Regions from separate parts of the Homo sapiens genome. Here all the other regions are linked to region 1. The links come from fine-mapping of genetic effects on gene expression. A gene starts in region 1. Each other region holds a variant in brackets. All regions are shown on one strand. Distances are from middle to middle.

The links.
Region 2: its variant is fine-mapped to the expression of HACD4 in whole blood (INTERVAL, PIP above 0.99).
Region 3: its variant is fine-mapped to the expression of HACD4 in whole blood (INTERVAL, PIP above 0.99).
Region 4: its variant is fine-mapped to the expression of HACD4 in whole blood (TOPMed, PIP above 0.99).
Region 5: its variant is fine-mapped to the expression of HACD4 in whole blood (INTERVAL, PIP 0.96).
Region 6: its variant is fine-mapped to the expression of HACD4 in whole blood (TOPMed, PIP above 0.99).
Region 7: its variant is fine-mapped to the expression of HACD4 in transverse colon (GTEx, PIP above 0.99).

Annotation. Positions count from the first base shown.
Region 1 is chr9:21,030,001-21,034,103 of GRCh38, forward strand. HACD4 (3-hydroxyacyl-CoA dehydratase 4) reads right to left here and starts at 1,640. Exons shown (of 7, transcript NM_001010915.5): 1 at 1,553-1,640. The coding sequence starts at 1,590. LOC105375989 (a long non-coding RNA gene) reads left to right here and starts at 1,642. Exons shown (of 3, transcript XR_007061435.1): 1 at 1,642-2,000; 2 at 2,472-2,651; 3 at 3,363-3,919. RefSeq lists a silencer at 1,416-1,775 and an enhancer at 1,419-1,979.
Region 2 is chr9:20,997,249-21,001,324 of GRCh38, forward strand. It overlaps HACD4 (3-hydroxyacyl-CoA dehydratase 4), which reads right to left. Exons shown (of 7, transcript NM_001010915.5): 7 at 2,261-4,076. Among named protein-coding and RNA genes, the nearest start is that of HACD4, 32 kb to the right of the region's middle. The variant G/A (reference allele first, on the strand shown) is at 2,399.
Region 3 is chr9:21,085,493-21,089,595 of GRCh38, forward strand. No RefSeq gene overlaps it. Among named protein-coding and RNA genes, the nearest start is that of IFNB1, 9.6 kb to the left of the region's middle. The variant C/T (reference allele first, on the strand shown) is at 1,531.
Region 4 is chr9:20,850,393-20,854,392 of GRCh38, forward strand. The region is part of intron 15 of FOCAD (focadhesin); the gene reads left to right. Among named protein-coding and RNA genes, the nearest start is that of SNORA30B, 65 kb to the left of the region's middle. The variant C/T (reference allele first, on the strand shown) is at 2,376.
Region 5 is chr9:20,954,835-20,958,834 of GRCh38, forward strand. The region is part of intron 35 of FOCAD (focadhesin); the gene reads left to right. Among named protein-coding and RNA genes, the nearest start is that of HACD4, 75 kb to the right of the region's middle. The variant G/A (reference allele first, on the strand shown) is at 2,285.
Region 6 is chr9:21,005,592-21,009,694 of GRCh38, forward strand. It overlaps HACD4 (3-hydroxyacyl-CoA dehydratase 4), which reads right to left. Exons shown (of 7, transcript NM_001010915.5): 6 at 2,430-2,555; 7 at 1-1,528. The coding sequence ends at 1,446. Among named protein-coding and RNA genes, the nearest start is that of HACD4, 24 kb to the right of the region's middle. The variant A/G (reference allele first, on the strand shown) is at 2,345.
Region 7 is chr9:21,066,355-21,070,457 of GRCh38, forward strand. No RefSeq gene overlaps it. Among named protein-coding and RNA genes, the nearest start is that of IFNB1, 9.5 kb to the right of the region's middle. The variant T/C (reference allele first, on the strand shown) is at 1,659.

The sequences.
Region 1 (4,103 bases):
TCATGGACCATCTGTATAGTGAGTTTGCTTAAAACCAAATATAGTGCTTTTTCAAAATCTGCTTTCATCTTTGATAAAGTTCTAACCTTGCTGCTCACCAAGGAATAAAAGAAACCACTGCGAAGGTGGCTTTGAATATTCTTTAAAAAAACAAAACAGGCTGGGCGCGGTGGCTCAGGCATGTAATCCCAGCACTTTGGGAGGCCAAGGCGGGTTGGATCACTTGAGGCCAGAAGTTCAAGACCAGCCTGGCCAACATGGCAACTTACAAAAAAAAAAAAAAAAAAGCCGGATGTGGTAACGTATGCCTGTAATCCCAGCTACCTAGCTGCTCAGGAGGCTGAGGCAGGACAATCACTTGAACCTGGGAGGTAGAGGCTGCAGTGAACCGAGACAGCGCCACTGCACTCCAGCCTGGGCGACAGATCAAAACTCTGTTCTCAAAAATAAATAAAAAATAAAAAACAAAACAACAACAACAACAAAAAATCCATGTGTGCAGAGTGGTTGACATGTCACTATGTGTTCCAGTAGCTCAGCTTGCTAAGTGCAGAACTTGAGACACAGTGTTTTAGTTCTGAAGGGGGGTAGGGATGGGAGTAATCCAAATGTTGGGTAATTCAGTAATTGGACACACCTGACTTTTGAACACATTATGTGATTGAGGTTAGTATTAACATCTTGCCACTGCCTATTAACATTTTGCAAGGGTAGATAGTTTCCTTCATCAGATACATATCGAAAGCAGTTTAGTTGCTCATACCAGAAGAGGGAAGTCAAGCTGGGTTTAACAATGTGTTGTGAGTTGCTGGGGAGATGACTAAGAGAAGATTGACAGATAGATGGTTTGAGGGAGTTAGGAAAAGCACTGTTTGAAATGTTCCCTGGGAGTTCAGAAGAGTGACGGGAGTGGCCCTGCCAGTGTGGTCAAGATTTACTCCTCCTTGAAGATGTGAAACCTCCTAGAAACAAGGAAAATAAGCTGGGAGGCAGAATGATTTTTATTTGGGGACATCCTCCCCTATAAAGGCAGGAACTGCTAAAGGGTTTGGGAAGAGGAAATCCTCCTTCAGCTTGTATCAGAATTACCTGGCTTGTGGGTTAAACATATACACCCCCAGGCCCTACCGCTATATGACTGAATCTGTTCCCCGCCGGAACTAGGCCCTGAAATCTATACGTGTGATAGGTGTTTCCACGGCTGTTACATCTAAAAATCACCCCGCAACTCTGCGTCTGAGAAAGTCAAGAGAAGGCTCCTGGGGGGAGGGAAGTACTGGCAGAGGGCTCACAAGGGCAGGGGTAGCCATGCAGCCTGTCCTTCCCATTCAACTGTAAAATGGAGAAAATAACAGAGCCTGCTTCCTAGGGTGGTCAAGAGGGGTAAGTTAGCAAATACCTGCATGAGCTCCAAGGGGTGCCTGGGCACGGTAGCGCTGCGCCTTGCTGGCGGGCGGGGGGTGCCGCCCGCCCGCCCGCCGCAGAGGGGAGCTCCCGCCTCCAGGCCCTCCACCCGCGCCCCCTCCCCTCGGGATTCGGCCGAGCGCCCTACCTGGGCTGCAGCCAGGCGGGCAGCGCCAAGGGCCCCATGGGCCGCCGCCGCCAGGGCTTCCAGCGCGGTCCAGGAAGGAGTACCGGGGAGGAGGCAGGGGCGGCCCCGCGGCTGGGCGCGGAAGGGCGGGGCCTCTCCACACTCAGCAGTTTACAAAAAGAAAAAGCCCGAGGTCGTGCGTTGGGGAAGAGATGAAAACGAAGTTCTCGAAGTTTCTGCAGCACTGCTAGAGCGCGTCAGGGCGCAAGGCTGGGAGGCGGCTCGCGTTCCCGGTGGGGTTACCAAACTCTGGTTACAGCTTCCTAATCTTTGTGTTGAGACCCCCTTGCAAGCCTTCTGGAAATTAATGCATCTGGGCGATTTCCGGGGCCTCCGAACTCGCTGAAGCCCATCCCCAAACCTCCCGAGATGAGTGGATTCCAGGGTGGGCTCTGCTCAATGCCCACCGGTGAGCCAGGTTCAGACACGAAGCTTGTGCCGGGCGCAGTGGCTAATGCCTATAATCCCAGCACTTTGGGAGGCCGAGGCGGGAGGATCTTTTGAGCCCAGGAGTTCGAGACCAGCCTGGGCAACATAGCGAAAACGCGTCTCTACTAAATGTACAAAAATTAGTCGGGCATGGTGACGCGGGCCTGTGGTCCCAGCTACTCCAGAGGCTGAGGTGGGAGGATCGCTTGAGCCTGGGAGGTCGAGGCTGCAATGAGCCAAGATCACGCGGCTACACTCCAGCCTGGGTAACAGAGCGAGATCCTGTCTCAAAAAATAAATAAAAATAAAACGAAGTTTGTAGCACACCTCCCCAACACTTTTTCAGCTAGGGGCCTGATTCCTCTTCTATCAGGCCTCCCTGCTCTCTAATCTCCCTTGGGTTCTCACTGGTGCCTGCAAATCTTTATTCACGTTGTGTTAATTTCTCTAGCCTATGCCCAGCACTGCTACAACCCCTTCGTGATCTCTCAGGCTTATGACATCACTGTCTCCGTACACAGATGACCCACCCTCCTGCTTTGCTAATAAGATCCAGCCCATCTTCAAGCTCCTCTGCCCAGAAAGGGAAACGTTAAAACAAAAACAGAAACATCTAAGAAGGCACTTGCAAGTAAGTGGGACAATGGCACCTGGTTTTGGAGTTGGAAGTTAGCGCCCCCATTTTTACCAAAAGGGAAGTTGAGGCATTAAAAAAATGTTAAGTCACTTGGCACAGGTCACACAATTGATAAAATGGCAGTATCAGAACTTCAAGGTTGGTGGGATTTCTTGTTTGTTTCCCATTAGGCCGTGGCTTCCTTTTTTCATAGTCCATTCCATTCACTATGCCTACCTCTCACCTCTACATTTCTCTGCACCTTCTCTCATACCCTGCCCTCAGTCGGAGGTTAACCCCAACTTTGTGTTTACCAGTCCCTTCTCAGACTCACTGCATCAGTAGTTAACCATCGCCTCTTCTTGCATCGTCATCCCCTCCTTTCCATTGGCTTTCACTGCACTTTAGGGACATAGACAACTCTCTCTTAGCATATAATTAAACATTGTATTCTTTCTGTTTCTCTCTCAATGGAATCTTCTAATAACTCCCTGCCTGCCTTCTCTGATCAGGTGCTTCTTTCATTTCCTACCATCTTCCTGTTCCATAATACCTTACAGTTTGACTCTCCTGACACTGCTCCGTCCGCGAGCATGTTAATTTTTCGCCGAATCCCTATCCTGTATCACCTTGCAGGATGATGCCCCACGGTCCTTGCTTTTACAGAACATTTGATCTAAAGGGTAAACTGGTGGCTAACCCATTATCAATGCTATCTCTGATCAGGTTAAGCAGCAAGAGAGAAAGTAAAGTCCCAGATGGCCTGCAGTGGGGCAGGAGGGAGAAGGTGGAAAGCCTGCCCAGAAGAATTGATCCTTTGTCACCAAACACAGCCCCTGCATCCACATCCTCATTGACAGGTCTGCTGCATTTTACCAGTTCTGTCTGTCTGCCATTTACCCCTGAAGTTCTACATATTCTACGTCTCTTGCCTTATGTCCCTTCTGTCTCTCTGGATGGGTCTTCTTCTCCTGCTGTATTTCCTCAAAAGTCTGCCCTTAGTCACCATCCATTTGTCACCATGTTATCCCTCAGCATAGACAACCACACATGGCTTTATCTCCATGTGGACAACTTTTGACTATTATTTTCAGCCCTTTCTTCTTTTATGAATACTATCTCTGGCCTTTGAGCAGCTTTTGGATATTTCCTCATGAAAGTCCTATTGTTTGGACTATCTTTGGAACGTCTTCCAATTCAACCTATTTAAAATAAGCATACTATCTCTCTTCCTAAATCATTATTTCCCACAGAAAGACCACCATTTTTCTAGCCACTTGATTTTAAATTGGGGAGTCATCATTAAGCACCCCATCCAATCAAATTCGATTGATCCCATCCTTTCCAGATCTCCTACTAATCAGTAGTGTTCTTTGTCCATTCCTTATTTTCCAGTACCTGGGTGAGGAGTAATTGGCCTCCCTCACATCCATTCTTTACATCATAACTCAGTTGACTTTCTGGAGC
Region 2 (4,076 bases), 33 kb before region 1:
TAACATTCACTGCTAGGTGTCAGAAAACAGCTATAGAATATACACAAAACATTCACTGCTAGGTGAATTCACTGCTAGGTGAATTCTAACATTCACTGCTCGGTGTCAGAAAACAGCTATAGAATATACACAAAAGGAAATGAGAAAGGTATTTAAATGCTTCATTACAAAAAAATAAGCACAATAGATGACAATCACGCAGGAAATGAGGGACAAAATACCTATAAAGCAGATAGAAAACAAATATCAAAATGACAGAACAGTTGAGCTTTCAGTTGTATTATATTATTTAACTCTTGCAACAATACCACAACGAGGCATTTTCTATTTTAAAATGGTGCAAACACAACTAGTTAAGTGGCAGAGAACCCACTGCTCTTTCTATGCACCAGGCTCATCAGCTCCTCCTTTAAGATGAAAACTCCCACAGAGGATGAAACCTTACTCATGCTTAATGTAGATTGCTATAATCAGATAAAGAAACAACTCTGCCTCATATAGGTAGGCCTCTGGAACGGAGAAGTTTAGGTCTGTAGTGTAAATGAGTAGGTCTTCATGGGTTGAAGGACTTCAGATTCCTGGGCCAGCTTGCAACATGAATGGCAAACAGGAGTAGTAAAGAGGAAGTGAGCACCAAAGAACCACTCTCTATTTTTTTGAGTCTGCAGCCAGAGACTACCAATGCCCAAGTAAAGAGATGAAGAATCAGCCTAGTCTTCCAACCCCAGACTGCCCTTTTCAGTTCAGCCCAGTTTCTTCTCATTCAAACTTTGTCCCTGCTCCTGCCCTTGACAAGGAAACAGAAGAGTACAAAAGGGAGGAAATAAGATGTTTATTCTTTTTTCCGCAGCTCCTTCTTTTTATTTTGAGCAGCCTTGAGTATAAGATTTGTATTTTCTTATTCATGGGAACCTCTAAAGATTCTAAATTCAAAACTCCAAAGGTTCTTACATCTAAACATTCTAAGATATAGATCACCAGACTAATAAGACCTTTTCTCTTGCTATCTGCATGACCTCAGGTGAGAATTAAATTATTCCCTTAGGATTTTTCAGTTTATTCTCCAGAAACCAGAAGTCTCTGCATTTTTAGGCCAGATGTTCCTAGCTTTATGGAAAGTTTCCTTACAAATCATCTAATGTTAGTTTTTAAAAACATAAGTGGCCAAGACAAATAGCATGCTGAGATGTACTAACAAATTAATGTGTGGGGTTTGAGCCCTGATAGGTCTCTCAGAACTATCTAAACACTCTGACTCTTGATTTGAAAAGTATACATTTGGAACAGATGTTAAGATCCATGCAAGTGCCTAAAATCCTCTTTGTGTTTTATTTGTAATGTAATGGCTCCATGGTAACCAAAAGGCTGTTAATAATCTTTTTTTAAGTTAACTGTGAGACATTAATGTCTCCAAAATGATTTTAACCAGAGATAGTGGTATTGTAATTATATAAGGAGTCAGATTTAAGGATTCAATTACTATCTTGAAGTAACTTAGTAACTTTGAAAGCAAGCAGCAGTTTTAGAGGTTTAGCAAACACTTTAGTAAACTGCTGTTTTAGAAGAGAAATCAGATCATTTGGTAAAGAGATGGGGCCTTCGTTAAAGCCCGAGGGTAGGTCCCTGTTTGGTCAGTTTGTATTTCTGACCCAACCAGCCTATTCATAGGAACCACTTCAAATGGAACTAGGGGACAGAGTGTGGCTGGAACCGTTCACATTCTTCATCACTCTTGTGGAAAGACACCCAACAGCATCATCTTCGTTTACGAATGTGTGTCATCACTGCTGTGGTCCTGGACGAGGTAACATGCTTCTGTATTTTCTGGGGGAAATACATTACTGTGATCCTGGAAACTTTAAAATCTCATCTTAAATGTATGATATATATAAATATATATATATATTATTTATAAAGTTGTGAGTTTTGCATTTAATCTGTTAATCTTCATAAATAGTAAAAACTTCTTTAAAACTACAACTTAGAAAGCTCATCTGATTCTTGTCAAACATAGGGAACTTGTAAGATCATTTCCAGCTAAATTATTAAATATGAAACTGAATAAAAATGATTATTCCCTGAGGTTTGGTTTTATTTTTTGGATAAAATGATCTACCTCACAAAGTAGCTGTGAGGGTTAAAATAAATAATACAAAAATATGGTTTATAAATTATAAAATGTTATTGAAATGTTATCACTTTTGTGTGTTTCACTGCAAATAAATAGCTGTAATGCTTGAACACATTTCTGACATGTATATGGGGACTCAGGAAGACAGTGGAAGTTTATTAAGAAATTGTTCTTAACAATTAAAATATTCTAGAAGTAGCATGTTAAGATACTTATATAAGTTGAAAGAAAAAAACAAAACTTATGTGTCTTCTAAATATAAGGAAC[G/A]CTTTGAGATACAATTGAAATTCATTACCTAATTAAGCCGATAGATTTCTTGAAATATATTTCTAGATGTAGTAGTGGCGTTCTTTAAAGATAGAGTTGCACACACAATTATGGGTGTCTATTATGTGCCACTATACAAGTTTCTGGGGTACAATCTGAACAAAACGTGTCATCCCTGCTCTCATGGAACTTACAGTCAGAGAATATAAATCACTAAACCATCATGAAGTAAGAACAGAACATGTTATAAATGTCCTACTTCTGCAAAGCCCTTTATAATTTGCAAAAGTTTAATTTACCATATGTCATTTAGTCTTCATAATAACTTTAAGTGGTTAAGGAAACTGGAACTCAAAGAGTCATTCAGTTAGTAAATAATGGAGCTTGATCTCAAATCAAACCTAGTGCTCTTAATTCCAGACCACATTATCTTTCACAAGAACCCCATCATTCAGCTGAATACCATGAAGTAACAATAGACACCTACATGTATGTGATGAATTAAGGCATACTTTTACTAATTGACTTTCATATGGAATTAACTAACCTTATTTTAGATGAGATTTAAAACTCCAGCTACCCTTAGCAAAAATAAACTAGTTAGTAATTCTTACTTGGCATGTTAAAAACATGTTCAGAACTACTATTTAAGGATTTTTAAAGCCATAAAAAATCATCCCTGTTCTGAAAACATTGGTGGCTTTTATATAAGTAGTTCTTTTTAGCAGTTTTCTTTCTGTCCAAAGCTGAAATAATTTAGACTCAAAAGCAGTGGTTCTCAAACTTTTCTGTGCATGAGGCTCATTTGAGGAGTCTATCAAAAGGTAGGATCCTGAGCTTATTCCCAGAGCTTCTGATTCAACTATCTTTAGTGGAGCCCTGGAATCTGCATTCTAAACAGGTGAACTTGTTAATTGTGGCTGTTGCTCCCTGAACATACAATCTGAACACTACCCTGGAGAACCATGTCATATCAACATTAGCATATAACTCAGACCGAGAAGAATATTAAAATTATCCGAACCAACGGGAAACATTATAATTATTAAAAAGCAGTAATAAACAAGTGGAAGATAGATACTGGGTAAAGGAAGATAATTTTTAGCATATTTTAACCTTAATTTTAAATCACTTTAACACTTTAGTACCATAAAATGTTTTCTCCATAAGTAAACTTAAATAATTGTAAGATTCTTTCTTTGGGGAAATATTTTGGACATTGAGATTGTATCTATTTGTACTTCTGAAATAAATACAGTTTCTCACATTTGACAACTTGCTCAAGGCAGGCAAAGTAAGGAATAGTTTAAAAAAAAACATTAACTTAGGGACCTTAGTGAGATGTAGTTACCATATTATTAGATTGAAACGTTCAGTTTTCAGCAAAAAAATAACAAGGCATACAAAGAAACAGGAAAGTATGTCCCTTTCAAATGAAAACAAAAACAAAAACTATCTCTGAAAAAGACTTGATGGTGGATCCACTAAAGGCTCTACAACGACTGCCTTAAGGATGTTTTTTAAAGAACCAAAGAGCATGCGGAAAAAGTCAAAAAACCAATGGATGAACAAAATGGTAATATCAATATAGAGAAAATCTAAGACGATACAAAAAAGAAATTCAAGAGCTGGAAAGTACGATAATTGAAATGAAAAACTCACTAGAGGTATTCAAAGG
Region 3 (4,103 bases), 55 kb after region 1:
AAGTACAACAGCTATCTGTGCTGTCGCCTAACTATCCATAGCTGATTGGTCTAAAATGAGATACATCAACGCTCCTCCATGTTTTTTGTTTTCTTTTTAAATGAAAAACTTTATTTTTTAAGAGGAGTTTCAGGTTCATAGCAAAATTGAGAGGAAGGTACATTCAAGCTGAGGAAGTTTTCCTCTATTCCTAGTTTACTGAGAGATTGCATCATGAATGGGTGTTAAATTTTGTCAAATGCTTTTTCTGTGTCTATCAATATGACCATGTGATTTTCTTCTTTAACCTGTTGATGGGACAAATTACGTTAATTGATTTTCAAACGTTGAACCACCCTTACATATCTGGAATAAATTCTACTTGGTTGTGGTGTATATTTTTTGATACATTCTTGGATTCTTTTTGCTAATATTTTGTTGAAAATGTTTGTATCTTTGTTCATGAGAGATATTGGTCTGTTGTTTTCTTTTCTTGTAATGTCATTTTCTAGTTCCGGTATTAAGGTAATGCTGGCCTAGTTGAATGATTTAGGAAGTATTCCCTCTGCTTCTGTCTTCTGAAAGAGATTGTAGAAAGTTGATACAATTTTTTTTTCTTTAAATATTTGATAGAATTCACTAGTGAACCCATCTGGGCATTGTGCTTCCTGTTTTGAGAGGTTATTAATTACTGATTCAATTTATTTAATAGATATAGGCTATTCAGATTGTTTATTTCTTCTTTTTACATTTTTCAGATTATGTCTTTCAAGGAATTGGTTCATTCTATTTACTTATCAAATTTGTAGTTATAGAATAGTTTATAGTATTCTTTTATTATGCTTTCAATGCCTATAAAATTTGCAGTGATGTTCCCGCTTTTATGTTTGATATTAGTAATCTGTGTCCTCTGTCTTTTTTCCTTAATTATCCTAGGTAGATGCTTATCAATTTTATATATCTTTTCAAGAACCAGACTTTTTATGTTGATTTTCTTTATTGATTTACTGTCTTCAATTTTATTGATTTCTGCTCTAATTTTTATTTCTTTTTTTTTTTTTTTTTTTTACTTACCTTGGATTTAATTTGCTCTTATTTTTCTACTTTCCTAAAGCAGAAGCTTAGGTGATTAATTTTTATGACTTTCTTTTTTTCTAATATAGCACTCAGTGCTATAAATTTCCCTATAGGCACTGCTTTCACTGGATTCCACATATTTTGTTAAGTTGTGTTATTTTCATTTAGTTTAATATATTTAAAAGTTTCTTTTGCCAACCAAGATTACTTTACCCAACAAAGTTGACCTTCAGAAATGAGGGAAAAATAACAACTTTCCAAGACAAACAAAAGCTGAGGTAGGATGGCACTACTATACCTACTTACAAGAAATGCTAAAAGGAATTCTTCAAGCTGAGTAAAAGGATTCTAGTTAATAACATAAAAACATGAACGAATAAAACTTACTGTAGGAATAGGAACAGCTCCGGTCTGCAGCTCCCAGCGAGACCAACACAGAAGGCGGGTGATTTCTGCATTTCCAACTGAGGTACG[C/T]GGTTCATCTCACTGGGACTGGTTAGACAGTGGGTGCAGCCCATGGAGGGTAAGCAGAAGGAGGGTGGGGTGTTGCCTCATCCGAGAAGCACAAGGGGTTGGGGAACTCCCTCCCCTAGCCAAAGGAAGCTGTGAAGGACCATGCTGTGAGGGATGGTGCTATCTGGCCTAGATACTATGCTTTTCCCATGGTCTTTGCAACCCATAGACCAGGAGAGTCCCTTGGGTGCTAACATCACAAGGGCCTTGGGTTTCAAACACAAAACTGGGCAGCCATTTGGGCAGACACCGAGCTAGCTGCAGGAGTTTTTTTTCATACTCCAGTGGTGCTTGGAATGCCAGTGAGACAGAACCATTCACTCTCCTGTAAAGGGGGCTGAAGCCAGGGAGCCAAGTGGTCTAGCTCAGCGGATCCCACCCCCAGAGAGGCCAGCAAGCTAAGATCCACTAGCTTGAAATTCTCGCTGCCCCCACAGCAGTCTGAAGTCAAACTGGGATACTCGAGCTTGGTGGGGGAGGGGCATCCACCATGACTGAAGCTTCAGTAGGCAGTTTTCCCCTCACGGTGTAAAAAAAGCTGCCTGGCAGAGCCCACTGAAGCGCCTCCAAGCTATTGTAGCCAGACTGTCTCTCTAGATTCCTCCTCTCTGGGCAAGGCATCTCTGAAAGAAAGGCAGCGGCCCCAGTCAAGGGCTTATAGATAGAACTCCCATCTCCCTGGGATAGAGCACCTGGGGCAAGGAGCGGCTGTGGGCACAGACAGCTTCAGCAGACTTAAATGTTCCTGCCTGCTGGCTCTGAAGAGAGCAGCAGATCTCCCAGCACAGTGCTTGAGCTCTGATAAGGGACAGACTGCCTCCTCAAGTGGGTCCCCGACACCCGTGCCTCATGATTGGGAGACACATCCCAGCAGGGTTTGACAGACACCTCATACAGGAGCACTCCAGCTGGCATCTGGCAGATGCCCCTCTGGGCAAAGCTTCCAGAGGAAGGAGCAGGCAGCAATCTTTGTGTTCTGCAGCCTCCACTGGTGATACCCAGGCAAACAGGGTCTGGAGTGGACCCATAGCAAACTCCAGCAGACCTGCAGAAGAGGAGACTGACTGTTAGAAGGAAAACTAACAAACACAAAGCAATAGCATCAGCATCGACAAAAAGGATGACCACACAAAATCTCCATCTGAACGTCACCAAAAGCAAAGACCAAAGGTAAATAAATCCATGAAGATGAGGAAAAACCAGCGCAAAAAGGCTGAAAATTCCAAAAACCAGAATGCCTCTTCTCCTCCAAAGGATCACAACTCCTTACCAGCAAGGGAAAAAACTGGATGGAGAATGAGTTTGATGAATTGACAGAAGTAGGCTTCAGAAGGTGGGTAATAACAAACTCCTCCGAGCTAAAGGAGCATGTTCTAACCCAATGCAAGGAAGCTAAGAACCTTGATAAAAGAGGAATTGCTAACTAGAATAACTAGTTTAGAGAAGAATGTAAAGGACCTGATGGAGCTAAAAAACACAGCACAAGAACTTCGTGAAGCATACACAAGAGCTGAACTGATCAAGCAGAAGAGAGGATATCAGAGATTGAAGATCAATTTAATGAGATAGGTTTCAATATATAGATTTGGAGAAATTCAAGAGCTAATAGGCACCACACCAGAGGCATTAACAGAAGATGACTTGACAGAGATAAGTGCTTCTGAACCAGTGCCAGACAATGAGGAAGAAGATATAGGAGAAGAAGTGCCAGGAAACAAATTGGCATTAGACAATCTGGCAGAAGAGTTCTGATTATTCAAGACTGCTTTTGGCTTCTTTTATGACATGGACCCCTCTACAACATGGGCACTGCAACTAAAGCAAATGATGGAAGAATGATTGCTACCATATATATAAAAATTTTTAGAGGAACAAAAAAGCAAAAAAGTTACACAGAAATTATGATTTATTTCCATAAAGTTACACTGTGCCTGCTTTTTCTGCCTCTCTTTCCACCTCCTCACCTCTTCACCTCTGCCACCCCTGAGACAACAAGACCAACCCTTCCTCTCCCTTCTCCTCCTCAGCCTATTCAACATGAAGACAAGCATGAAAATCTTTATGGTGATTCATTTCCACTTAATAAATAGTAAATATATTTTCTCTTCCTTATCATTTTCTTGTTAACATGTTCTTTTTTCTATCTTACCTTATCATAAGAATACAGTATATAATACATATAACAAAAATATATGTCAATCAACTATATGCTATAGGTAAGGATTCTGGTCAAAGGTAGGCTACTAGTAGTTAAGTTTTGAGGAATCAAGAGTTATACACAGATTTTTAACTACACGGGTGTCAGTACTCCTAATCCCTATGTTGTTCAAGAGTCCACTATAACCCAAAATAGCAGTCTCCAAACAAGGTCTCTCTTGGCAAACTGAATGTTTGGCCATGGTACCCAAAGGCAGAATGAAGTTTAAAGTGGAAATATATATATATATATTTCAATATATCTAATATATTGAAATATATATATTAATATAATATATTAAAGTCAATATAATACATATAATATATATTATATTATA
Region 4 (4,000 bases), 180 kb before region 1:
ACAATTTTGGAGTGTTAGAGGCATTTTTTATGTGGATTTTATGAAATGGATGATGGTAGATATAAATTGCTATGGCATTTTATCTAATTGTATAAACTTAGTAGAATGTTATAGCAATTTTATTTTAAAATGGAAGTATTTACCATATGTTAGAAAATAAATCTTTTGCAGTCTTTATACTTCTTAAATGCCAATTTACATGATTTTTCAAAACTTTTTAGGAGTTGCATGAGCAAAAAGTATTTAAAGACTCCTACCTTCAGTTATGCTTTAAACTTGATTTTCTTTTATCATATATGATTTAATTGGCACAATTTAAATTGGTATAATTGGAAATTAAAAAGACACAACAGAGCATCTGGTACATAATTGCTCTTTAATATTATTTCCTCCAGGAACTCCTTTCTGATCTCTGCTCTCTTCCTTAACCAGGTAATTTCCCCCTCTATATCTAGTATGAAACTTCTGCAGTTTCTCTTAACACAAGGTTTTGTAATGCATGTTTATGTATCAGTCTCTACTACCTGATGCTAAGGTCCTCGAAGATAGAAAGTATGTTTTAGCAACTGACCTCCTCCTGCAAAGCGTCCAGCTTAGTACCTGGTACATAGCAGTTGCTCAGTTCACATTTCTTGAACTGAACAATAAAGAAGATAAATAATTAGTCTTATGAAAATATTAGATAACCTTAAGTTGGTTTAAGTGTCAGGGTTTGTCTTGTCTATCTCTAGTGAAAACTTATTCCTTTGCATATTTTGTAGGAATAATTTCAAAAGTTACCACCTTCAAATAAAGTTGAAAACCATGAAAGAGTTTTGGTTTTTTTTTTTTCGTGGGGTGGGGGGGTGTTATTATTTAGATCCATTGGTATATTAAAATTTTTTTCCATCTAGCGTCTTTATCTGTAAAGAAAGGGATTAGAAAATATGATGTCCCTGTTTCTAAAACCAGATATCTGCATAAATGTTCTGACTTTTATCTTCATGCCTCTTTTAAGTGGAAGAGCAGTGCGGAAGGTTAAACTTTGGAATTCATTGTGAATTTGACTGCTTTATGGCAGCAACACATCAGAATTCCTGATATTGGAACAATTCAAGTCAAATCCAGGGCTTATTGCTGTCACATTTCTAATTTCCTACCCGTTTTGAAATTTTAAAGTAAATTCACTAATAAAGTCTAATATCTGGTAACTGAAAGTATGGTTTTATAACTAGCAGCTTCTGTGTCACCTGGCAGCTTGAAACGAGAATCTCAGGCTCTACTCTAGACCTACTGAGTTAGAATCTGTAGTGTGATGAGATCCTTTCACCACAGGGTATTCAAGTGTACATTAAAGTTAAAGAAGCATTGGTCTAATCTAATTGCTAAGCTGTATCCAGTTAATAATCACATAGTCTAGTTCAGGAGTTGGCAAACCATGGCTGACTCTTCCAATCCAGCCCACTACCTTTTTTTGTAAGTAAAGTTTTATTGGAGCACAACCATGCTCATTTGTTTATGTATTGTCCATGGCTGCTTTCTTGCTACAGTGGTAGAACTGAGTAGTTGTAATAGTGACCATGTGGCCCTTGAAACCTAAAATATTAATTCTCTGGCCCTTGACAGAAAATGTGCCCTGCCCTGTCCTAGCTGGTGATAGGTCAGTTACCACCATGTATTTATAAATTTGTTTTGAGATGAGTGCTTTTTTATGCCAAGCACTGTGCTAGATGCTGCTTTTGTTTGGGTGGAAAAATCTTGTTTATCCTTGTTTAAACCTTGCTTTGGGGGAACCATTTTTGTTGTGAATCACTAGCTTTCTAGCACTGAAGAGCAAAGTAATTCCTAAGAAGTTTTACTAAAAAGTTTCCTTTTTCTTTGTTGAACTTGTAGATTATAGGTTTTGTCTTTAGTCTTGATTTTCCTAAGAAGGAACTTGTTTGTTTCTATGAAAAGGGACCACAGGCATGTTTGTTCCTTGTTATTAGGGAGTTGTAGTTAGTTGTGTGAGCCACTCAGGCTTAAAAGACTGATTTTCCCTATTGTTTATCCATGAAGAATTCATCAGTTCTGTTATCCCCAGATCTGTGGATACATAGGGTGGGGGTGGGAGGATAGAAGAATCATTTTCATTGAACGTGTAATCAGGTTATGTTTCAGGAACTCTCAACATTGGTTACTTAGAAATGCATTCGTGGAATTCTATCTTTGTAAAGTGGACTAAACTCAAGAGGTATTCCTAAAAACTTTATCTTTGAAGTTTAAAGTTTTTCTCTAAAGTGGTCTTAGTGTTTCTGAATTGACTGCCTAATTCATCAATTTTTTTGATACACAGCATATTGATTCTTAAATATGAAATGACAGTAAACTGTATTTCTCAGTCTCTTTCTACAGTA[C/T]ACTTACAGCCTCTTTAGCCCTTTTTAACATTTAGATGGATGATATTTTTATTCTTTTTGCTAGTAAATACTCAATTTGCTTTACTTTTAATTTTGTATCTGTTGAACAACTTCCCAGTAGTTCGATTTATTGAGTTTTAAGCTATGTTGATTTAATTTCTGTTATTTTCCTTTATTATCTTGGAGTCTAACCTCTATTAGAAAAGAGGAAGGAGTGACCATTAGAAAAAAATTTCCTCTGATTATTGTGGGGGAATAAAGCACTAATCATTTTCTTGTCAAGGAATTTTTTGACATATTCTTCCTATGAATTTGCTAGTTCATCCTGGAAGAATGTCCACCAAAAAATAGATAACTCATACAGACAGAATCTAGCAAAACTGAAAAGTGAATGTCCCTATAGGGAGTTCTTTGTGTCATTCTTTCTGTTCCTGCAGAGAAATCAATGGAATTTGCATTGGAAGATACTGTTCCTTGTGGAAGTATCCTAGGCACCTGTAATTTCTCACTAGGGGGAATAAAAAAGAAACCTAACGTCTCTGGCTGTTGAGTAGTGAGTCTCTTGGGTGGCTTCATAGTCTAGATCAATCTGTTTAATAAATGTCTCTGTTTTTACTTGTGTCACACAATTCTAAACCTGTTCTATTCAGATATTAGAATTATAAGTATGTACTACAAAGTGCCAAATAGTTTTTCAGAAATACAGAATAATTTAAAAAGTCTCTGTTACACCTCTTTTGGAAATGTCATGGTGATGTTACGGGTTGTTAATATGAGAGTAGCTTTACTACAAGTCCAAATATTTTTGATTCTCTAAGGCATAGTTTGGGATTTAGATATGTTCATCTATATTCTTTGCCATGAACAGGACAAAAGTTGTTCAACTATGTTAGAAAATCATCAGAATTACTGTCATTTAGATTATAAGTGAGTTTTAAAAAGGTACCTCAATATCTATATCTGTTTGTTTCTTTTTTCCCTACAATGCTGCCTTGATAATAAACTAGTCTCAGACATTAAAAGGCTGTGAAATTGCTTAAATAAACCTGTGCTAGTCATTTTTTAAAATACTTAACAACCCCTAACCCTATATTATTAGGATAAGAAAGAATGTTATTTTTCTCATTGTTTCTGCTCCATTGATTGTGTCTCTTCAAAATCTCTCTTATCCCGTTATTGTGTTTTGGTAACAGAAGCATCCTGTTTTATGAATTGTGTGTGCTGAATTAGCTTAAGAGGGCTTCACTGCGTGATGATGACTTGAGTCCTTTAATTGTGAAGGCAGTTTCTTTTGCCTTCATTATGAAAAGGGCAAATAAGGCAGTTTTCATAGCCTAAAGGTTTTTTATAAAGCTTTCCTCTGTTGGAGTAAAGAATCAGGACAAAAGGAGTAGGCTGTTCTCAGGAATTTCTAGAAATAGCTTTTGAAAGTAAAATTAGGAGATAGCTCTCTGTTCCTCTGCAAAAGAACAAAGTCATTTTTACAGCACAGGAATTAGAAGGAAAGGCTCTGATTCTTCTGAGGTTCACTATTTTTTTTTCTGTTGGTTATAACAACAATAACTATATTTTTCAGTGTATAAAGTAGGTGTACAGTTGTCTCCATATGGGCTTTACTGGTAACC
Region 5 (4,000 bases), 75 kb before region 1:
AATGATGACCCCAGAGGAGTGGGGGCCGTGGGAGGCTGACCTCCGCCTCCAAAGCCCATTTACAAAAACAAAACCAGACCCTGCTCTGTGGGGCTAAATGGGATGGCCAAATGCGGAGGTGTGCATGCAAACGAGTGTTTTCTTCTTCAATATACCCAGCTCATTTGAATTTTAATAACTCCCTTCTGAAGCAGCTTTTGAGTTTAAATGTCTGGATGTCACTCATCAGAGCCCGGTGGGACTGCTGATAGGAAGGATGGCAACTTTAGTGAACTCTTTTGAGGAATAAATGGTTTTAGAAAATAAAAATAATGCTTAGCATAGGCAGAAAAGTTTAGGGATGGCATGGTTTCATTGTCTCTGCTTGCTACTTTTAACTTCAGCAACTCACTAGAGGAAAGAAATGTGATGGGCCATCCCCAATCCACATTTGTGCTAGGATGAGTTTGGGCATGGTGGTCTCAAATTTAGCCAATCAAATTTGAGATAGTGAATCTGTTAATCTGTTTTCTAATGTTTAGGGCTTTCTCACTTAGGATACTGACTTTAGTACTCATGTGATAGAACATATAAGATGTTCATAGCATCCATTCTTTCATGCAGACCCACATTTTAAAAAGATACTAAATAGATGAGATTCCCTCAGTTTTTAAATAATTCAATTCATGGTTTTGACTATAACTGGGTCTTTTTTTTTTTTTTTGCTATACCATGTGACATTCTTCTTTCTTCTCTCATAGCCCTGGAATTCCTCTATCAGATATATTGTTCCTTAATCTTTTGTCGTCATTATTATCTGTTCTTGTGAACATTTCTTGACTACGCTAGCCTTAAAATCTTTGCTCATCATCTAATTCCTCCTAACATGGATATTTTTTCCCCCTGAAGAACCTCTGACTTTTGACTTTTACTTTTTTGCTTCTTTTCTACTTTTATTCTTTTGTCTGATTTCTGATTTTCTCAAGATCATAGGCTGTTCATATCTCATCAAGATTTTATCCACTTCTTTTATAATACATTAGAAACATATTTAAAGTACTTAATAAAAGTGATTCTTTCTAATGCTAATATTAGATATTTCTATGTAATAGCATTATTTTTGTTATTATATTGCTGGGGAATGTGGCTAACACTTTCTAAGCTTATATTTTCCTATTAGGCTTTAAAAATTCACAGTAAGAAGTATTAACTAAGCAAAGTATATTTAAGTCCACGTAATAGTCATTATGAATGGCTTTCTTTCTTGATATGGGCTAATTGGTCAGTGATCTGCGTGTGTAAGTATTGGGCTTGGATACGAAGTACAGGTAGGCATATGCTCCTTCAGTCATTTTTGAACTATTACCATGAGAGGTAATTGTTAAGAAGGAAATATGCCAAGGGAACAGACTTAGTGAACTCTGAGTAGAATAAATAATACGAGAAAGCTGTCCTGTTTTCTGATGAAATCATGGAGTTGGTTGCCAAGGTTATGTGTGATTTTTGAGTATTTTAATTTAGAAATAGTTTACCTGTACAACTCTTTAAAAAATATTATCAGAAGTCAGTATATCTGTATAATACTAAGTTAAAAGTGTATATAGAAGAAAATAAGACAATCCTCTGTCATGTCACCACTTGGAGATAGCCATTATAAATATGTCCTTCATAATGTCCTCCTATATGTATGTGTATGTGTTATATTGTACCATAAAATGTATATTATTTTATTGTCCTATTTTAAAAAAAGTAATGACTTTACATGCAAATGGACATAACTAGCACCCATGTCTTCCAAAAAAAGCCTTGAGGAAGTAAGAAAAGAATCCTATTGCATTGGTTTCTGGACATTTGTCAATAGCATATGTTTTTGGTGTGTTTGATTCCTTTTTTGTTTCATGAGGTTTGTTTTCATAAACCTCATGAAAATGTTTGGAAGGAAAAATGTCACCAATTATCCCATGACTCTACAGCTATTATCATTTCTGGATATTACTTAATTTGCTGCTTCTGGGATTACAGCCATGCACCACCACGCCTGGCTAATTTTTTGTATTTTTAGTAGAGACGGGACTTCTCCGTGGTGGTCAGGCTGGTCTTGAACTCCCGACCTCAGGTGATCCGCCTGCCTCGGCCTCCCAAAATGCTGGAATTACAGGTGTGAGCCACCGTGCCTGGCCTGTATTTTTGAACTTAATATTATATTATAAACTTTCCCTGTTTTCATATATCACCATAACAATTGTATAATAACAGCTATTATTTTTGAGACAAGGTCTCGGCTCTATCACCCAGGGTGAAGTGC[G/A]GTGGCACGATCATGGCTTACTGCAACTTCAAACTTTCTGGCTCAAGTGATCCTTCTGCCTCAGCCCCCCAGGTAGCTAGGAGTGCAGGTACATACAACCAGGATCAGATAATTTCTGTACTTTTTGTAGAGATGGAAACAATGTTGCCTAGTCTGGCCTCAAACTCTAGCTTTGAGCAATCCTCCTGACTTAGCCTCTTTAATTGTTGGGATTACAGGCATGAGCCACTGTACATGGCATAATGATCATTTTTAAATGACTATAGAATATTTCATCAAATTCATAAGTCATAATAAACTTAATCATTTTCGTATTGGTCATTTTTAAAATTTCAATTTTAGTGAACATCTTTTCTTTTCTTTTTTTTTTTTTTTTGAGACAGTCTTGCTCTGACGCCCAGGCTAGAGTGCAGTGGCGTGATCTCGGCTCACTGCAACCTCTGCCTCCCAGGCTCAAGTGATTGGCCTGCCTCAGCCTCCTGAGTAGCTGGAATTACAGGCAAGTGCCACCAAGCCCAAAGATAGATAGATAGATAGCATAGATATCTCTCTCTCTTTTTTTTTTTTTTTTTTTTTTTTTTTTTTAGTGGGGTTTTTCTATGTTGGCCAGGCTGGTCTTGAACTCCTGGCCTCAAGTTATCTGCCCTCCTCTGCCTCCCAAAGTGGATTACAGGTATGCACCACCATACCTGGCCTTTAGTGAACATCGTTATGCATATAGCTCTCTTCTGCTACAGCTTTCCTTCAGATAAATTCTCAGTAATGTAGTGAGCAGGAGTCCAAGGATTTGGTGACTATAGGGATGGCCAGGCCTCGTTGCCCTTCAAAAAGCTTTGCCAGTTTTCAGTACCTCAGCCCTGTATGAATTTGCAAAAATATAAAACATAGAGGTTAAAAGCATAGGAGTCAGGCTGCCTGGGTTCATATCCCACTTCCACTACTTACTGGCTGTATAACTTCAGGCAAACTGTGTCTGTAAGCTTTGACCACTTCTGTAAAATGGAGAAAATAATTGACTGTTTTTTATAGAGTTTTGTAAGAATTATGAGTCACTTTATGTAACAGTACTTATAAAACAATATAAAGAATAAATTCCTTCTTTTATAATGTCATATTAAAAAGCAGCCCAAAAAACAAATGATAACAATAAAAACCAGTCAGGTATAAAATGATACCTTAAGACTGCTCTCATTTGCATATAATTGCCAGAAGGTCTGAACATCTGTACATTTATTTACTGTTTAAGAGGTTGGTTTTTTTTTTAAGTAAATTTGAAATTTTTAAAAAAAATTTTTAATTGATGAATAATTATACATATTCATGGAGTACATAGAGATGTTCTGATGATATTATGTATAGTGATCAGATCAGAGTAATTAGTGTGTCTCTCATCTCAAACATTTATCATTTCTTTGTGTTGGGAACATTCAATTCCTCCTCCTAGCTACTTGAAACTATGTATTATTGATAACTATACTCACCCTACAGTAGTATAGAACACTAGAACTTATACCTTCCATCTAATTGTGGTTTTGTATCCTTTAACAAGTCTCTCCTTGTCTCTTTCTTCCCCCTGCTCTTTCCTAGCCTCTAAGTATTCTCTCTTCTACTTTTTACTTCTGAGAGATCAACTTTCTTTTTGCTTCCACATATGAGTGAGAACATGTGCTATTTAACTTTCTGTTCCTGGCTTATTTCACTTAACATAACGTCTTG
Region 6 (4,103 bases), 24 kb before region 1:
CCCGGAACAATGATTCAGAGAACATCAGTGGTACCTTCTCAGTTTCAAAAGGGGCAGTCATTGCCTTGGTTTCAACAGGCCTGACAGCTTCCGCCTGGTGATATGGGGGTCATCCTCCTCCAACATAGTCCTGGGGGCAATACCTCTGCCTCACTGGGTCCTGAAGCCAGAGTATCAGGCCAAAGAGGATTATTACTAAGACTGAAGATCTCATGGTGTTTGCCTTGCTAGGTTTTGGACTTGCTGGGGACCCATTACACCTTCCTTTTTTCCTGTTTCTTGCTTTGGGAATAGGAATGTCCACCCTTTGTGTGTCCCACCATTGTACTGTGGAAGCACATAACTTGTTTCATTTCACAAGTTCAAAGCTGGAAAGGAATTTTACCTCAGGATGAATTCTACCTTGAATCTCACCCACATCTGATTTAGACGAGACTTTGGACTTTAGAGTTGATGCAGGAATGAGTTAAGACTTTTGAGGCTGTCGAGATGGAATGTATGTATTTTGCATGTGAGGAGGACATGAATTTTGTAGGACCAGGTACAGAATGCTATGGAGTGAATCTTTGTGTTCCCCCAAAATTCATGTGTTAAGCCCTAACCTCCAATATGATGGTATTTGGAGGTGGGGCCATTGGGAGGTAATTAGATCATGAGGGTAGAGCCCTCATGAATGGGGTTAGTGCCATTATAAGAGACATAAGAGAGTTGATCTCTCTCTCATGTGAGGACAAAGAAGGACATCTATCTGCAAACTGGGAAGAGGGCCCTCACCAGAAACTGCATTAGCTGATGCCTTGATCCTGAGCGGAATTCCCAGCCTCCAGAACTGTGAGAAGCGTTTGCTGTTGTTTAAGCCATTCGGTTTATGGTGTTCTATTATAGCAACCTGAGCTAAGACATAGGGCTTGGAAAGATATTTAATTTTCTAAACATATCTAATGTTTAGGGTGAGTATTATTAGATCTGAAGACAGACATCTGTCTATGAAATATGTTATTCTAGGCAACTGTGGAATATATTTTCCATCCCTCTTCTCCTACAGATCTATTTGGGAACTTGGAAGTGAAAAAGAATACATGTAATTTAGGTTATCAAGTTTGGTTTCTTAATTTAATTGAATCTATTGCAGCTAATCTCCTATTTCTCATTAAACTTACAGGAAAATAATCAGACTTCATACAATGTAAGTATAACTTGTATAAAATCCAAATGAAGCAGGAATTTTGGTGAAGCAGGGTATGGAGAATATATATGTCTTAAAAATACAATGTGTGAAAAACATAGCCTGTTATGTCTAGAGTTTTGGGGGTATGTGCAGTTATTTCATGTAATGGATTTTTATCAAATACAAGGTATTTTTCCACCAGAATACTTCCTGTGTTTTATTTACTGCACTGAATCCACAGCCTGTCTTTTCTCGTGTCACACTGGAATGCTGTACTTCACATCTTCTTTTTTTTAATGGGAAAGATTCCGAGGATGTCTCTTCTTTCTGAGTATAGATGACTGTAGGTAAAATACATACCTAATATGGAGAAAGAAGTTGCAAAAGTAAGTAAGGTTAACTATTTCTCTGGAAGAAACAATGCTTTTAAAATACAGTCAGAGTGCTGCCCAAATCCAGGGAGAAGACACTTGCAAGGGAGATGTGAGAAGGAATGTTTAAAGAAGTGTCCAGATTTTATGCAGAAAGAGAGGTAAATCAAACTCTTCCATCCTACTTTTTTTAATGCAAGGAATTGTCTTCCTTTCTTTAGCATAGCTCTCTCCACCTTCCTCTAAAGTTTCACATTTTTGTCTTTTCTCTCTATATGTTGTTCATATGTTTGATATCTGTTACCTTCTAGAGATAATCATTATTTTGGAGATTTGTGAAGGTTAGAGCTGGGAAAACAAAAATTTAATAGTGAAAGTTTTTTCCCCAATTTCCTGGAAAATGATTAGGTTTAATGATCAAATTTATTCAAGGGTAAGTTTTTGTTCCATACATTTCTCTTGAGTCTGTAACACCGACTCCCATTTGCCTGATAGGAAGTGCCAGCTTGAAAAGCCAAACAAACAAGAAACAAAATGGATATAAATGGAAACATCAGAAATAGCCAATTCTTCTTAGTTTGACATCTAGGTTTTATTTGTAGATACCTGTGCACATGGTCAAAACTTCTATATCTCATACATAATGCAGCTATATTTTCTGATAGTAAAATTGTTCTTATTTGTACAGTGAAAGTGAAATATATGATCCCATGATGCCCTGCAAAAAGCATTATAACCTCCAGGGGCTTTACTAGCAAGATCTAGTTCATGATGTCAGGCTTCCTCTTTGGTCTCTCCCATGTTT[A/G]CCAACCTGTATATTAAGGTAGACGGCAAGCACTAACCAAAAAGTACAGGAAAAATGCAAAAACAAGACCAAAAAAGCCACTTACCTATAAAGAGCATCATGAGATATATTTTCAGCACATATGGGAAATAGATGGATAAGTCAAAGGGCAGCTTGGTGGAATAAGTGCCAAATGATTCAAAATAAGGCAGCGATTGATAGATGGCAAATGCTGTTAAAAAAGAAAGGCATCATAAAGGTATTCCTCCTTAAGTTGTTACAGGGATGTGTATATATGTCTTCATAGTTGTAGGATATTTTGAATTTGATAATGACAGTTTTGTAATAGTTGCTGAATCTTTTTGCTAAACCTAGTTTAATATAGAAATCTGTGAAATGATTAAGTTGGCAAGGTGCTTACAGCAGTATGACTTGTTGAATGTTTGTCCATGGTATACCTTATTGTGCCTACAGAAGAATTTACAATGTTTCTTAAAATGTTATCTCAAAATACATTTGTCCACCTAGCCACAAATAGGGGTGATAGAGAGATGAACTTGGAAAATGGTGCATATATTTTCCTCTTAGAGTTTCACAACACACATTAACATAGTAGAACACATATTAACATTGTGAGAAATTCTGTAATAAAAAAATACCACCTAGCCTTTCCTCAATGTAACTGGCCTTAGAATATCTCCTTCTTCCTTCTTAACCACCAGTAGTATTTAATAAGTATTTTGAAGAACTCTATGAGAAATGCTGGCCTAAATTATTTTGAGGGAGGGGGCTGGTATCAGGTAAAAAAAAGATTAAAGTTCAGTAACATTGTATCCCATGTATAGATATTTTTGGTAACATTTCATGCAATGAAATGTTAATATGCTAACATGATGTAAGATGTTATCATTAGGGTAAGCTGGGTGAAGGGTACATGGGAATGGTGCACTATTTTTGCAATTTCTTATGGGTCAAAATTATCCCTACATAAAAAGTTTTTAAAAAGAGAAAGATGAAGAAAAGGCAAGAGTTCACAACTGTTAGAGCCAAGCAGAGGTATGAGTAGCATCAGTGAAGGATCTGCCACTGACACCAAATATGCAGTTTAAGGTTAACACAGGCCGCACCTATGTCTCTAGCATTTTATCAGTATAATTAGTTGATTTTGTTATTTACATAAGCTTTGTTTTTGTCTTATATCTGTCAGATGGGAAATTATAGTTATTAAAATTATTAAAATTAAAGTTATCGAAAGTTTAGTAGGTTTATTTAACTGCGCAGTTTTATACTTTGGGACATCTAACATATACAGAAACACAGAAAGATAAAATTACAATTATCTGTATTCCACCATCCAGAGCATTATTGACATTTTTGTCATATATATCTCTAGACTATTTTCTGCATATACCTTATTTTGTAATTGCAAGAATAAGTTTATGAAGTTAATAAAAGAATAAGGGTTGTATGGCAACCATATAAGAACATGGCTTTCCTAGAAAAGACAAGGATTAGAATTATGGAATAACAAGAATGCAAAAGTTTCCTATACATTTATCCACCCCTTATTCCTAGGAAGGGATTAGTCATATTTCTACCTTATTCCTTTATATATTCTTTTAAATTTGATTAAGTTTTAATTGGCAAATCATAATTGTATACATATATGAAGCACAATGTGATATTTTGATATATGTGTACAATGTGGAATGATTAAATCAAGCTAATTAACATATCTACCACCTCGCTTACTTTTCGTGGTGAGATTTGAAATGTACTC
Region 7 (4,103 bases), 36 kb after region 1:
AAAGGGTTTACCTTTCATTCAGATCTATGAGTTATGTATTCAAGTATTCATTCATTCAACAAATGTTGATAGGTGGTGTGGTGCAATTAGTTAGTTGTGGAATCAGAAAGACCAGCCTGTCCTTGAATACTTCCCCTGCTCTTCACTGATCCCTGAACTTGAAGCAGATTCCTTAATTCTCTACTACTTGCTTTCCTCCTTTCAAACACAATGAAAATGCTATCTTATAGCAACTCAAGGGTTAGCAATAATATATGTAAAATACTCTTTCTCTCTTCTCTAATCACGGAGCAATAAGGGTGTGATTCCTGAGTGGCCCAGTCCCCCTGCCTCCTCAGGGAGAAGTATAAAGAAAGGAGGGGAGAAAAGATTTCTGATAGAGGAAAATCTCCAATTCCTGTTTCTGAGACCCCTGAGCTGCCCTTCCTGCAACAATTGCTTTGATGCTATGAGCAATTCTATTCTTGCAATAGATCCCATTTTTACATATTGTGGTTGGAGTTGAGTTTCCATCACTTTCAGCTGAAAGGGTCCTGAGGGTGGCAGCTGAAATCCTCTTTTCTTTGAGGGCATGTGGATTATTTGGTGAAAATAATGAAAGCTGAGGGAGAGAAGGCAGGCTCATCACTACGGGTAAAGCAGGTTGATATTTGTGATTGTCTGCTTTGCCAGCTAGGGAACCCAGTCCTGGGCGTCAAGAAGGACTTATCTTCATTCTCTGCTTCAATAGCTCTCTAAAACCTCTGTGAACATACTTATCTTGCCTTTAACTGCTCATCTTCTGCAATAGGACTGAGCTCCCTGAGGGCAGGCCTTGTGGCTCTAATGCCTTGAATGTTATAAGCTGTCCAACTCACATGTGTAGAATGAATAGTGTGTAAATAAATATACAGAAAATTAAGAATTTCTCAATTGTCACTCATGTGAATGTCTCCTAAATACAGTCTTTCCACTTAATAAATAAAAAGTTACTAAATAGTACCATTGCCTGAGCCAATTAAAGTTTTGCATATCTTAGAACCTTGCCTCTGCTATTTACTCACCAGTTAAAGCAAATTATTTAAGTTATCAATCCCCAGATCTCTAATGTGCACTTTGACAAGTATATATATATTTTTGAAATTCAAATGCTGTATTGAGAAAGATATAATCCATGCAGAGGGCATTATGACTAGTGTGCTTCTGGGTTAACTGTTTGGCCAGGAGGGAAATAATATTGCAACTAGTTGAAGATCATCGTTTTGGAGCACCTCCAGACCTTATTACTGCATGGTCAGACCTGGGGGAAAGAATGAAAATGTATTTCCTTCTACTTTGGTTCAGTTGATAGGCTATTCTCTATTGGAGACAAACTGTGTTTCACACACAACCAGCTGGGTGACCACTTAATATCACAGCAAGATGCAATCAGGCAGTGGGTTCCACAGGGTCCAGTCTTCTCCCAGTTGATCGATGGGAGCAGTTCATTAAGGTCAAAATATCAGAAATGTAAATAGTTCTTTCACTGCTTCCCTCCACCACTGTTTTCCCTTTGGGTTATTATCATTTATCACTTCTGGCAAATCAAAAAGAGAGAGAGAGAGAGGAAAAAAGGAAAAATCAGAAGAATGTTTAGACTGTTGGTGAAAATGCTGCTGCTGAATAAGATGATGTCTCCT[T/C]GGAAGTTACCACAGCTTGATAGCCATAATCCCTTCTCAGAACCTTTAGAAGGCTTTGTGGCCCTGTCTGAGTGTTCCCAAGTTATTCCGCTGGTGGGTTGCCTGTGTTTTTCCATTCCCAATTAATGACTGGATAAGGAAGTAAGAACAGAATAGGGAACAGGGGCTTATTAGGGACCAGTAACGGTTCCCTGTGACAAGACATCTAACAGATGAAACACTGTTCCTGTCATCCTTTTCATTTCTGCATTTATGTGGCTGGGTTACCAGGAGATAGGGAGAGAGATCAGTCTAGAAGTCCAGTATGGGGCACCAAAGCTAGTGAGATTTCCAGTGGGAGGCTGAGTTCAGGCAACAATGTCTGTGAAACTGAGCAATGAAAGAGAGAAAGCTTATTGGACATGCAGTCAGAAGATAAGAGCCTAGGTCATTTTCTAATTATACGAATATATTTGAGATGCCCATGGACTTTGTGTTAGGCTCTTATTGACCAGACAATTACATGATCATGGTGTCATGGTGTTGTTTTTAATTACAGAGATAATTGTCTGAACTATCTGGGAATTTCTACAGATTTTGTGAAATTTTACTTTGGATAGGGATGGGATGCTTTAAAATAGAGGCTCTTATATTTCAGCAAGAGAATAATAGGTAACAATTGCCTGCAAAGAAGAAAAAAAGCTACCATTTATTGATAGTATATGCCAGGAGTTTTTCTGGACAAGTCCTACACAGGTAGTAGATGCAATGGAGGGTTATTTACCTCTCCCACTTCCTTCTTTATACATACCTGCCAAGCCAATGGGAGCCTGAGATGAAGTCAAGGGTTTTGAATGAAGCAATTTGAAAATGAACCCTTCCTTGTCAACTATTACAGAAAGTATTATAATATAACCCAGGGAGGTTGAGCACTTGCGACTTAATAAACACAATTAAACCATAAGAAATAAGAACAAATTTAGATAAACAGAAAGAAAATGAATTTTTCATGCATACCACATTTATTATTTCAGGGGTGTGGCTTATAGTAGGAAAATAATCCATGGAACTCAAAGGTATATTGGAGTTTAGGAGAGATCCCGTTGCAGCCTGGAGGGGAGGAAGCTGTATTGAATATTGCTTTCCTCCCTTGTGTGGCCTACTCTTCCTTAATAGATGCTAAGGTGCCACATATGCCTGATAGACACCAATTGGTCTAAAGCCAGTTCGCCAAATATAAAATATATCATGCTTTAAACTATTTATAAGGCTTATAACAAATATAATGGAAGAAGTTATTTTAATAACCCTTGAATATTTCTATGGCATTTTATTATTTTAATTTATTTTTTAAATTGACAGATAAAAATGGCATGTATTTATTGCATACAACATGGGGTTTTGAACTATACATACATTGTGAAATGGTTAAATCTAGCTAACAAGTGCATTATCTCACATAGTTATTATTTTTTGTGGTGAAAACACTTAACACCCATTCCCTTAGCATTTTTCAAGAATACAATATATTATCATTAACAATCACCATGCTGTACAATAGATCCTTTGAACTTATTCCTCCTATGTAACTGTAATTTTGTATTTTTTGACCAACATCTCCCCAGCCCTCTCCTGCCCATCCCAACTGTCCCAGCTCTGGCAACCATCATTCCATGCTCTGTTTCCATGGGATTAACATTTTTAGATTTTACATGTAAGTGAGATCCCGTGGTATTTACAAGGCCCTGTGTTGGACCAAGTCATACATCCCATTTTTTGCATTTATTTCTCATAGAAATCTTGAAGAGTTTGGGGTATGATTGTTTCTAATTTATTTAACTTGCCCAAGACCATACTGGTACAAAGTGGCAGAACCCACAGTAGCTCTCAGGTTTGTATTATTTCATGCCCTGTGTTTTTGCCATCAGAGTATAGGAAACTTAAAAAAAAAAAAAAAAAAAAAAAAAAAACTTTGTACTTTCAATGCACAGACTTTCAATTCATGCATTTCTAGATTAGTAAATCATTTTCTGCTTTGAAAGTTATTTGTTTTACCTCTGGACTTTCATAAAAAGAAAATGAGCCAAGAAATTAAAAAGTGAAAGGAAAGAGAAATTTGCTGTGTATTTCCATTAAGTAATGTAAGCCATTTTAGTTTTTAAGCATTCCTGTGAGATAACAAAATCAGCTTGTGTCAGACTTGAGAGGGAAACTGCACACAGGGCTGTCTTGCTAGTACATGGATAAAAATGTAGTGCTCAAGAGAAGGAAATGCAGCCTTGCCAAGGGAAAAACGATGACTCATGATTCAGACAGTTGCTTACAAAAACCTTTGGAGAAAATATTCTCCGTAGAGTCTGGCAAAGGAGCAAATGGGAATTTCCTGCTATTCTCTTTAGAAAAAGGAAGAGAGAGAGAGTTCCCTTCTGCATGGGGATGGAAGGAGACCAACTGCTTGAGTGAGGA